Linked DNA regions of Homo sapiens: all the other regions are linked to region 4. The links come from fine-mapping of genetic effects on gene expression. A gene starts in region 4. Each other region holds a variant in brackets. All regions are shown on one strand. Distances are between the middles of the regions.

Region 1 (2,616 bases), 67 kb before region 4:
AAGAAGTATCCTAAGGAAAAAAAAAAAGAAAGAAAGAAAAAAAGGGGGGGCGGAATTTATATAAAAAGAGTATTATATGGTAGATTCTTGTCCTGAAATAAGTTAACTGGTTGTTTAAAGAAAGAAATATTTGTAATAAGTCAGAAAGTTGAGGCATGTCGAAGAATTGTCTGTGAAAGTCATGAAAGAGAAAAATGTTATAAAAAAGAATTTATGCAAAAAATGTTGTATAATTTAAAAGTAACTAGGCCTCCTGAATGTAAAACTATTAAAAAAAAAAACAGTTTATGTGCAAGGTGTATAAGAAAAGTAAAATATACCTTTGGTAAAAGGATTATAAGGAAGCATAAGAATGTACATTTTTACCTACATTAAAAAAAGAAAATTACTGTTTTGAAGGTTTAAACATGTTTTAAAATGTTAATTGTAAAGAAAATTCTGTGTGTAAACATATTAGCTAAAGTTAAAGAAGTATCATCCAGTTTTTCTGTGAACTGGACATTAAAGTAAAAGCATAACAGGTTTATCTTAAAGCACCAACCTGCTCTTTAGCAAAAATTGTAAGGAAGGAGACCACTACTACTCCTGCTGCCCTCCTCTCCCCACCTTGCCTAGTTCACAAGACAGGAAGAGAGAAAAAGCAAAAAGTTGGAAAAAAACAAAAGTAAGATAAATAGCCAGACAACCTTGGAACCACCACCCGACCCTAGGAGTTAAAAAAAGTAATAATAACATCAACCCCTGACCTAAACTACTTGTGTGATCTGTAAATTCCAGACACTGTATGAAAAAAAGCATTGTAAAACTTTTTGTTCTGTTAGCTGATGCATGTAGCCTCCACGCTTGCTTGATGTATCACGACCCTTTCACGTGGACCCCTTAAAGTTGTAAGCCTTTAAAAAGGCCAAGAATTTCTTTTTCGGGGAGCTCAGCTCTTAAGACGCGAGTCTGCTGATGCTCCCGGCCAAATAAAAACCTCTTCCTTCTTTAATCCAGTGTCTGAGGAGTTTTGTCTGTGGCTCGTCCTGTTACATTTCTTGGTTCCCTGACCGGGAAGCGAGGTGATTAAGGGATGGTCCAGGCAGCCCCTTAGTTAGCTTATGTCTGCCCTGTAGAGCATCCCTGCAGGGGACTCTGGCCAGCTTGAGCAACACGGATCCTAAGAGCGCTCCCGGGTAGGCATTTGCCCCGGTTGAACACCTCACCAGAGCAGCGCACAGCAGGCCCCCGCGGAGGATCAACGCAGTGGCTGAACACCGGGAAGGAACTGGCACTTTAAGTCTGGACATCTGAAACTTGGTAAGACTGGTCTTTGGAACTTGCCACTCCTCTTGAGTGGAAGTGTGGCCTGATCACCCATGGCGTGCCTGTACCGGCACATTGGTTTTTGTTTTTGACTTGACTTGAATTGCTTGATACTTTGGTTTTAGTTTTGATTTTGACTTGACTTGAATTGCTTGATAAACAGACATGCCTTTATTGGCACTTTGGTTTTGGTTCTGATTTTGACTTGGCTTAAATTGCTTGA[T/C]GAACAGGTGTGCCTTTAACAACACTTTGGTTTTAGTTTTCATTTTGATTTAGTGTGAATTAGATGAGTGAGTGACCTTTTATCCTTTCCTTCTTGTAGTGTGAATGTTGTTTTGTCTCAAGAGAAAAATAGGTCAGACACAAAGTAAGCCTACTCCACTAAGAACTGTGTTAAAAAAAATTTTCAAAAAGAAAAATAAAAGGAAAGTCATCAAATCATCAAAACTTATTCCATTAAAATGCAGGTTACAGAACCTTAAGAAGGGTTTTGCAGGAGATTATAGAGTTAAGTTAACCCCTAGAGGCTAAGAACTCTGTGTAAATTAGAATTGCCCTCTTTTGGTGTTGGATGGCCCACCGAAGGAACTATAGACAGGGAACAATTGGCCATGTATTTAAGGTGGTGACAGGGGTTGGAGGACAGCCAGTGTACCTAGATCAAATTACTTTATATTGACTCATGGTTAAATATAATATAGACAAAATGGGCATAAATTTAGCCCTGTTTAACAGCTTATTGCAAAAAAAGCCAAAAGTAAAAGTAAGAGCAGCTTCGCCAGCAGACATGGAGTTAAAAAGGGAGTCCCAGAAACAGCAACAGAAGCCAGTTTTGCAGGAGCTGCCAGAGATAATAGAAATTCTTTCTCCATATGTCCCAGCCTATCCCCCTTTACCGAGGCCAACAGCCCCCTCAGAAATGAGATTCAGGAGCTAACATGCCCCAGGTCTCACCTCAAAGGGGAGGATCGGAGCCTCGAGAGGCCGAGGAAGGAAGTCAAGATAGTCAAGTGGGCCCTCTCAGATCTGGTCTTGCTCGAGCTATGCAAATGCCTCTCAGGGAGACGCGAGGACCTGTCTATTATAATGACCAGGCCCACATCTGGGGGGGCAACAGACTTTCATCTATCAGCCCTTTTCAACCATTGATCTACTAAACTGGAAATACCCTGAACCCTCCACCTTGCTCCTGGCAGCTAGAGCCCTGTCGAGCATAACTGTGTAGAGGTGTTGGACTCAAGTTTACTCTAGCAGACCTGACCTCCAGGACCAGCCTTGGGCATCAGTAAACTGGGAGCTATACGTGGACGG
Region 2 (2,616 bases), 81 kb before region 4:
TGTTTTTTAAGCCACTAGTCTGGTATTTTGTTATGGCAGCTCTAGCAAACACATATACCATGTATGAACAGCAGTTGTTTTGTATACTTCATGCAGTTTTCTAGTTGTTTACAGCACTAAGGGAAATCTGGTACCAGTTTTCTGTCTGAGCTGGAAGCTGAATACAACAGATTTGTTTTAACAGAGACAGAACAAGTTGGAAAAAGTTATAAATAGTCACACGAATTTCCATTTTACACAGGAAAACGTAATGAACATTTTAAAAAACAGCTTAAATGAAGTAATTGATATACAATAAACTGCACATATTTGAAGTACAAACTTGATAAAGTTTGACATATGTATACACCAATAAGATCATTACCACTGTCAATCTAAATAATAAAGAGAAAGAGGCTCTCTAAAAGAAAAAGAGATTTATTCAGGAGTTACGCATTGCAATGGGAATATGTGTGCCACAGTAAACTATGTATATGTATTGAATAGGTAAAGAAAGACAAAGGTTTTGGCTGGATGCGGTGGTTCATGCCTGCAATCCCAGCACTTTGGGAGACTGAAGTGGGTGGATTACATGAGGCCAGGAGTTCGAGACGAGCCTGGTCAACATGGCGAAAACCTGTCTCTACTAAAAATACAAAAATTAGCCGGGGATGGTGGTGCATGTCTGTAATCCCAGCTACCGGGGAGACTGAGGCGGGAGAATCAAACCCAGGAGGCAGAGGTTGCAGTGAGCTGAGATCACACCACTGCACTCCAGCCTGGGTGACAGAGCAAGACTCTGTCTCAAAAAAAAAAAAAAAAAAAAGAAAAAGGAAAAAGACAGAGGAGAAAGGTTTTCAAAGGAAAAAATGAAGAGGATTACATCATTGTTTTGAAATGATATCCTTGGCTATAAAAATCCTTAACAAGGGTGTTGCCTGGCTGAGGTTGGACAGGCAGTTGCTTGGTAGATGTCTTTGCAGATGAATTTTTTGTGTAAGTTTGTGATGGCTTTTTTGCAAGGTTGTGTTTTTTCAAGGGTCTTTTGTGATAGCTTCTGTTATGAGACATACAAGCCTTCCCTGGCTCTATTTTTTTTTTTAAACACTAGTGACTCCTAGTGTTAAATCTCAATTCTAACAACTTTCACATTACAATCAAGATAAAATGGCTGCCACCCCCAAAAGTTTCCTTGTGTCCCTTAGTAATCCTTGACTCCTGTACCTATACATCCCTCCTTTGCCTCTACCAATCTACAGGCAACCACTGATCTGCTTACTTACCACTATAGGTTAGTTTCCATTTTCCAGAATTTTATATGAATAGAATCTTTGACATGTGTTTTGTGTGTGTGTATGTGTGTGTGTGTGTGTGATGGAGTCTCCCTCTGTTGCCCAGGCTGGAATGCAATGGCGCGATCTCAGCTCACTGCAACCTCTGCCTCCCGGGTTCAAGCAATTCTCTGCCTCAGCCTCCAGAGTAGCTGGGATTACAGACACCAGCCACCACGCCCAGCTAATTTTTGTATTTTTAATAGA[G/A]ATGGGATTTCACCATCTTGGCCAGGCTGATCTTGAACTCCTGACCTCATGATCCACCCACCTTGGCCTCCCAAAGTGCTGGGATTACAAGCATGAGCCGCTGCACCCGGCCTCTTTTTTTTATTTGGCTTCTTTCACTCAGCATTATTTTGAGAGTCATACACATTGTTAGGTGTATCAATAGTTTGTTGGGTTCTTTTCTGAGACAGTCTCACTCTATTACCCAGGCTGGAGTGCAGTGGCATGATCACAGCTCACTGCAGCCTCGACCTCCCAGGCTCAGGTGATCCTCCCACCTCAGCCTCCCAAGTAGCTGGGACCGCAGGTGCTCACTACCATATCTGGCAAATTTAAAAAAAAATTTTGCAGGCCAGGTGTGGTGGTTCACCCCTGTAATCCCAGCCTGTGGGAGGCCAAGGCAGGGCCAATCACAAGGCCAGGAGTTCGAGACCATCCTGGCCAACATAGTGAAACTCTGTCTCTACTAAAAATACAAAAAAAAAAAAAAAATTAGCCAGGAATGGTGGTGCGTGCCTGTAGTCCCAGCTACTTGGGAGGCTGAAGCAGGCGAATTGCTTGAACCCAGGAGGCAGAGGTTGCAGTGAGCTGAAATCACATCACTGCACTCCAGCCTGGGCAACGAGTGTGTCTCAAAAAAAAAAAAAATTTTTTTTTTTTTTTTTAGCAGAGATGAGGTCTTCCTATGTTGCCCAGGCTGGTCTGGAACTCCTGAGCTCAAGCAATCTTCCTGCCTCAGCCTCCCAAAGTTCTAGGATTATAGGTGTGAACCACCATGCCTATCAGTAGTTTGTTTCTTTATTTCTTTTCTTTTTCTTTTCCTTGTTTTTTTTTTTTTTTTTTTGAGATGGAGTCTCCCTCTGTCACCCAGGCTGGAGTGCAGTGGTGCAATCTCAGCTCGCTGCAATCTCTGCCTCCCGGGTTCAAACGATTCTCCTGTCTCAGCCTCCCGAGTAGCTGGGATTACAGGAGCCCACCACCACACCCGGCTAATTTTTGTTTCTTTAGTAGGGACAGCATTTCACCACGTTGCCCAGGCTAGTCTCGCACTCTTGGCCTCAAGTGACCCACCCGCCTCAGT
Region 3 (2,616 bases), 66 kb after region 4:
ACATTTTACTTTTATTGGGATTCTGCTGAAAGAGATTTTTTTTTAACTGGCTCTGCTTATTTTGTGTGTGTATGTGTGTGTTTATTTCCTAGACTCGATTTGAAGTTAAATATCAAAATGTGGTACATGGTCTTTGTAGTGATGCCTGTTTTTCAAAATTTCACTCTACAAACAACCTCACCATGAACTGTTGTGAGAACTGTGGGAGCTATTGCTATAGTAGCTCTGGTCCTTGCCAATCCCAGAAGGTTTTTAGTTCAACAAGTGTCACGGCATACAAGCAGGTATGAATATCTATTTGTTGCATGTACTTAGGCCCACTCCTTCTGATTTGGCTGCACAGGGATGAACTACAAAATGAGAGTGAGCTCCTCCCATTAGTCCATCCTGATATGTGATTTCCCTTCCAGAAAATGGGATAGATTCTGATGGTGTGAGGGATGATTGTGGTGGTAAGTTGATATAGGTAAAATAGGTCCCTTTTTTAAGGCTCCCTTCATAGCTAAGAATTTACAAATGTGATTTCTTTTCTTTTTTTGAAATCGAGATAGGGTTTTGCCATGTTGCTCAGGCCGGTGTTGAACTCCTGAGCTCAAGCCATCCACTCGCCTCAGCCTCCCAAAGTGCCGGGATTACAGGCATGAGCAACCACACCTCGGCCTCATAAATGTAATTTCATGATTTTCTGTGAGCATGAAATATTTTGTGATGTATTGATAGCAAGAAAACCATATTATAAATAAACCATAAGCAAGAGTTAAGATGATAAAATCAGTGAATCTAAACAAAGCTTGTCTTTTTCATTTCAAAATGTGTTTGGGAATGAATTGTAATTATTTGGTCAACACTGTCTCATGAGAATACTTCAAGTAATTTTATTTATTGTAATGAATAATGGATTAAGCCGGTTACTAAATATTATCACCTTGTGTCAATTTAATTATTACTAATTTGTGGTTTTAAAAAGTTTTTCTTAAAGAAGTATCTTGTAAGGCCGGCGCGGTGGCTCACGCCTGTAATCCCAGCACTTTGGGAGGTCAAGGCGGGTGGATCACGAGGTCAGGGGTTCGAGACCAGCCTGACCAACATGGTGAAACCCTGTCTGTACTGAAAATACAAAAATTAGCTGGGCGTGGTGGCGGGCGCCTGTAATCCCAGCTACTCAGGAGGCTGAGGCAGGAGAATTGCTTGAACCCGGGAGGTGGAGGTTGCAGTGAGCTGAGATTGTGCCACTGCAGTCCAGCCTGGGTGACAGAGCAAGACTGTCTCAAAAACAAACAAACAAACAAA[A/C]AAAAAAAACAAAGATGTATCTTGTAAATGATAATTAAACTTTTTTTCAGTTAGCAAGTTTGATTTGTTGCTTCCTTTGAGCAGTTGGTAATGGACATATGGACATTCATCACTGAAAAGAATCTCTTTTTTTAAGATTTGCCATTTTTGGCAGTCTGGTTCTACTTTCACAGGAAAAGAATCCATGTTATTTTATATATGATCCCAAAATCAGTTCCATTTCTAATTTTGTTACTAGTATTGTACTCTGTCTTTTTACTAGGAAGATTATGTAGTGAAACCTCACAATTTATATTTTCCTACAATTTCTTTTCATATTGAGAGACCTTATAATGTATCACTGACAGCATAGTGTAGTGGTTAGGAGCCTGAACTTTGGAGCCTGATGAAATGAGTTTAATTTCCTACTTCTTCTGCTCATCTGTTAATTTAAACTTTTTGTTAATGTAATTTTTGAGAGCGCCTCACTCTGTTGTTGAAAGGTTTCTGTGATACACTATATATAAATTTCTTAGCCTGGGGCCTGACTCATGGTAAGCATTCAGTAAGTTATAATATTGGTTATGTAAATGGTAGCTATTTTTATTATTTCTTAAAACATGAATAAACTTATAAGCAGATTTTATTATGAAACTCAGCTTGAAAAATAGGTAGTTGTGTAGGATCTCTATTAATATACATTAAATATCATTTCTATCTCCTGCTAAAGAATCTCACAAATTAAGTAACCTTAAAGGTGGTAGACTCTTCTAGATTGATGTACAAGACTATACCAAGAATGACCCTTTGGTTCATGGGTTAGCTGGTCTTCTCTGGTTATTGGTGATTAAAAAGTATGTAATGACTATTTAATTCATTACTTGTGTTTGAATTCATGTGTTTTGTTTGCTAAGATCTCTATCTGAATAGTTACTAATTTTCTTCAGTTTCTATTTTATTGTTGTCTGGAAGAACTTATTTTCCCACCTCCCAATAGTGTGGTTTCATCATCATGCTCAAATATTTCAACCAAGGACCGTGGTTGTAGGTAGCTTTTCTTTTTACTTTTTTGAACAATATGTAAATATGTATGTTTGTACTAGGTATCTAATGTTATTTTATTTTAATAGAATTCTGCCCAAATTCCTCCATATGCCCTGGGGAAGTCATTGAGGCCCTCAGCTGAAATGATTGAGACTACAAATGATTCAGGAAAAACAGAGCTTTTCTGCTCTATTAATTGCTTATCTGCTTACAGAGTTAAGACTGTTACTTCTTCAGGTAATGTTTAAATTTGATAAATTTATAGATTTAATAACTATTGAAGAAAAACGTAACTGCTTTTCT
Region 4 (2,616 bases):
CTTTGAGAGGCCCAAGCAGGTGGATTGCTTCGATTCAGGAGTTCGAGACCAGCCTAGGCAACATGAAGATAACCTGTCTCTACAAAAAATACAAAAATTAGCTGGGCGTAGTGGGGAGCACCTGTTGTTCCAGCTACTCTGGAACCTGAGGTGGGAGGATCGCTTAAGCTCGGAAGGCTGAGGCTGCTTGTGAGCCGTGATCGTGTCACTGCACTCAGCCTGGGCCAAAGAGCGAGACCCAGTCTCCAAAAAAAAAAAAAAAAAAAGAAGCACAAATATATGGGAACTAGAAGGAGTGGGACTGTTGTTGCAGATAAAGTACAAGTGCAAGAGTGCTAGTAGAAGGAACTGGAAAGTTTGAAAAGTAGACATGGGTCATGTCAGGAAGGTCCCTGATACCAAATACCTTAAAATTAATCTTGTAAATCAGCAGCGTTCAAACTGTGCTTTTGGGGTTCAGCAAACATTTCATTTTTTTTTTTGAGACGGGGTCTCGCTCTGGAGTGCAGTGGCACGATCTCGACTAAATGCAACCTCTGCCTCCCGGTTCAAGCGATTCTCCTGCCTCAGCCTCCTGAGTAGCTGAGATTACAGGCGCCTGCCACCAAGCCCAGCTAATTTTTGTACTTTTAGTAGAGACGGGGTTTTGCCATGTTGGCCAGGCTGGTCTCGAACTTCTGACCTCAAGAGATCCGCCCGCCTGGGCCTCCCAAAGTGTCGGGATTACAGGCTTGAGGCACCACGCCCGGCCAGGAGTCAAACTTTTGAAAAATCACTGCTCAATGAAGGAGAGATACAGGTGTGATGGGGCTTCTGAAACGGAGGCTGCGGAGCGAGACTAAAGTCTGAAGGCCCAGTTACTACACAGGAGCAGGAGGCGGCGAGAATCGCTGGAAGCGGGGAGCACTAACCCCCCCAGTCTATGAGGGCAAGGTTAAAGGAGGCGGCAAACACAATCCACGTCAGGGCCTGGCCCGGAGTTCCCGACCCCCATCTGGCGGAATCCGCACTCAAAGCTCCGTCTCTAAAACCCCGACCCGGCGCGTCATCCTCCCTCCGACCGACAGCAGAAACCCTGCCCCTTTCGAGTAAGGCGCAGGAGTAAAGACCGAAACCAGAGCCGCATGAGGAGGCTTACTAATTTCTCTCAGGGACGCCCCGCCCAACGCTTCTGAAACAATCTTCGAAGCGAAACGGCCCCGCCGACCCCGCCCCTCTCCCGTCGTGCTCTGCGGTTGAGCATGCGCAGGGCCGCTGGCTCAGGGTGGTCCCAGCTCCCTGAATTGGGAAGAGCGACTTTGGGATAGAAGAAGTGGGAGAGGGGGAGGGGAAGAGTCCTTACGGCCCGCATAGGATCTTACCCTTGAAGTCGTCGCTGGCTGGCAGCCAAAGTAGGACCCTTGACTCAGAGCTCAGGCAGGGCAGTTAGATTTCCTGGATTTGAGAGATGGCTTTACTACTTATTAGCTGTGTGCTAGTAAGCGATTTGACAACTTCTATAAATCTCCATTTCTTCGACCTTGAAATGGGGATAATTGTAGTGGCTGCATCGTAGGTTTGTAAACATTAGGCAGGCTTCTGCAGAAGCTGGACTCAAAAAAAAAAAATATGACAGGCAATGTTAGCAAAGTGCCAGTTGCAGAGTAAATTCCTAGTAAAAGGAAATTATCCTCAGAGGTAGGGAGGGAGTTCAGACTTCTTTCATTAGTACGTTAAAATTAAAATGACCCCAGGCTGGGTGTGGTGGGTCACACCTATAATTCCAGCACTTTGGGAGGCCGAGGCGGGTGGACTGCTTGAGTTCAGGAATTCAAGACCATCCTGACCAACATGGTGAAACCCCGTCTCTATTAAAAATACAGAAATTAGCCGGGCATGGAGGCGGGCGCCTGTAATCCCAGCTACTTGGGAGTCTGAGGCAGGAGAATCGCTTGAAGCCAGGAGGCAGAGGTTGCAGTGAGCTGAGATTGTACCACTGCACTTCAGCCTGAGCGACAGAGAGAGACTGCGTCTCAAAAAAAAAAAAAAAAAAAAAAAAAAAAATTAAAATAACCCCAAACTGCATGTCAAAAATAATGGCATATTTTAAATGTTTTTTGACAATACTTTCAACACCTAAAAAAGTATAGGACGAACTAACTGTGCTATTCCTAAAGGCATAAGAGGATTCTAAAATATATATATAAGGTTGAATGATGAACTTATTATAATCATATTTGACAATTACTTTTAAAGGAGATATTCTCAAAAATCTAAATTTGAGGCCCTTGTGAAGGTGAGGTCCAGACCAAAAGGGCCTCCTAATCCTTGCTGCTATGGTCCTTAAATATCCTTTGGAATTAGCCTCAAATCTAATATAAACCCTTTGGTAATTTGAAATATTATACGAGTAACTGAAGTTAATTTCTCCAACATTTATTATTACCTTCTAATATTCATAATAATCTGTTTAGACTGTTAGGATTAGAAAGGACCTTACTGAAATGATCTCTCCTCTAATGCTCCCTTCCTACCAAAGGAAAAGCTGAAGGCAAGAGGATAAAGGTAATTTGCCCCAAGTTACACAGCAACTCAGTGACTGGGATTAGATTGGAACCCAGAAATGAGTCCTGGTTC

Alleles and levels. Alleles are on the strand shown, and positions count from the first base shown. SD is a standard deviation of normalised expression in the study named. Not every link is listed here.
For the expression in subcutaneous fat of the gene that starts at base 1,196 in region 4, T is the high allele of the variant in region 1 and C is the other (small effect, 0.35 SD a copy in GTEx).
For the expression in esophagus muscle of the gene that starts at base 1,196 in region 4, G is the high allele of the variant in region 2 and A is the other (moderate effect, 0.47 SD a copy in GTEx).

The links. PIP is the estimated chance that this variant, and not a neighbour inherited with it, causes the effect.
Region 1: its variant is the best candidate, but not a certain one, in a credible set for the expression of ZMYM1 in subcutaneous fat (GTEx, PIP 0.55).
Region 2: its variant is the best candidate, but not a certain one, in a credible set for the expression of ZMYM1 in esophagus muscle (GTEx, PIP 0.76).
Region 3: its variant is the best candidate, but not a certain one, in a credible set for the expression of ZMYM1 in whole blood (INTERVAL, PIP 0.76).

Annotation. Positions count from the first base shown.
Region 1 is chr1:35,144,982-35,147,597 of GRCh38, reverse strand. LOC105378644 (a long non-coding RNA gene) reads left to right here and starts at 773. Exons shown (of 3, transcript XR_947180.3): 1 at 773-1,299; 2 at 2,502-2,616. The variant T/C (reference allele first, on the strand shown) is at 1,529.
Region 2 is chr1:35,158,765-35,161,380 of GRCh38, reverse strand. No RefSeq gene overlaps it. Among named protein-coding and RNA genes, the nearest start is that of SFPQ, 33 kb to the left of the region's middle. The variant G/A (reference allele first, on the strand shown) is at 1,518.
Region 3 is chr1:35,012,365-35,014,980 of GRCh38, reverse strand. ZMYM6 (zinc finger MYM-type containing 6) reads left to right here. Exons shown (of 16, transcript NM_007167.4): 6 at 93-284; 7 at 2,400-2,550. Among named protein-coding and RNA genes, the nearest start is that of ZMYM6, 18 kb to the left of the region's middle. The variant A/C (reference allele first, on the strand shown) is at 1,291.
Region 4 is chr1:35,077,965-35,080,580 of GRCh38, reverse strand. It overlaps ZMYM1 (zinc finger MYM-type containing 1), which reads right to left and starts at 1,196. Exons shown (of 10, transcript NM_024772.5): 1 at 1,139-1,196. RefSeq lists an enhancer at 771-1,289.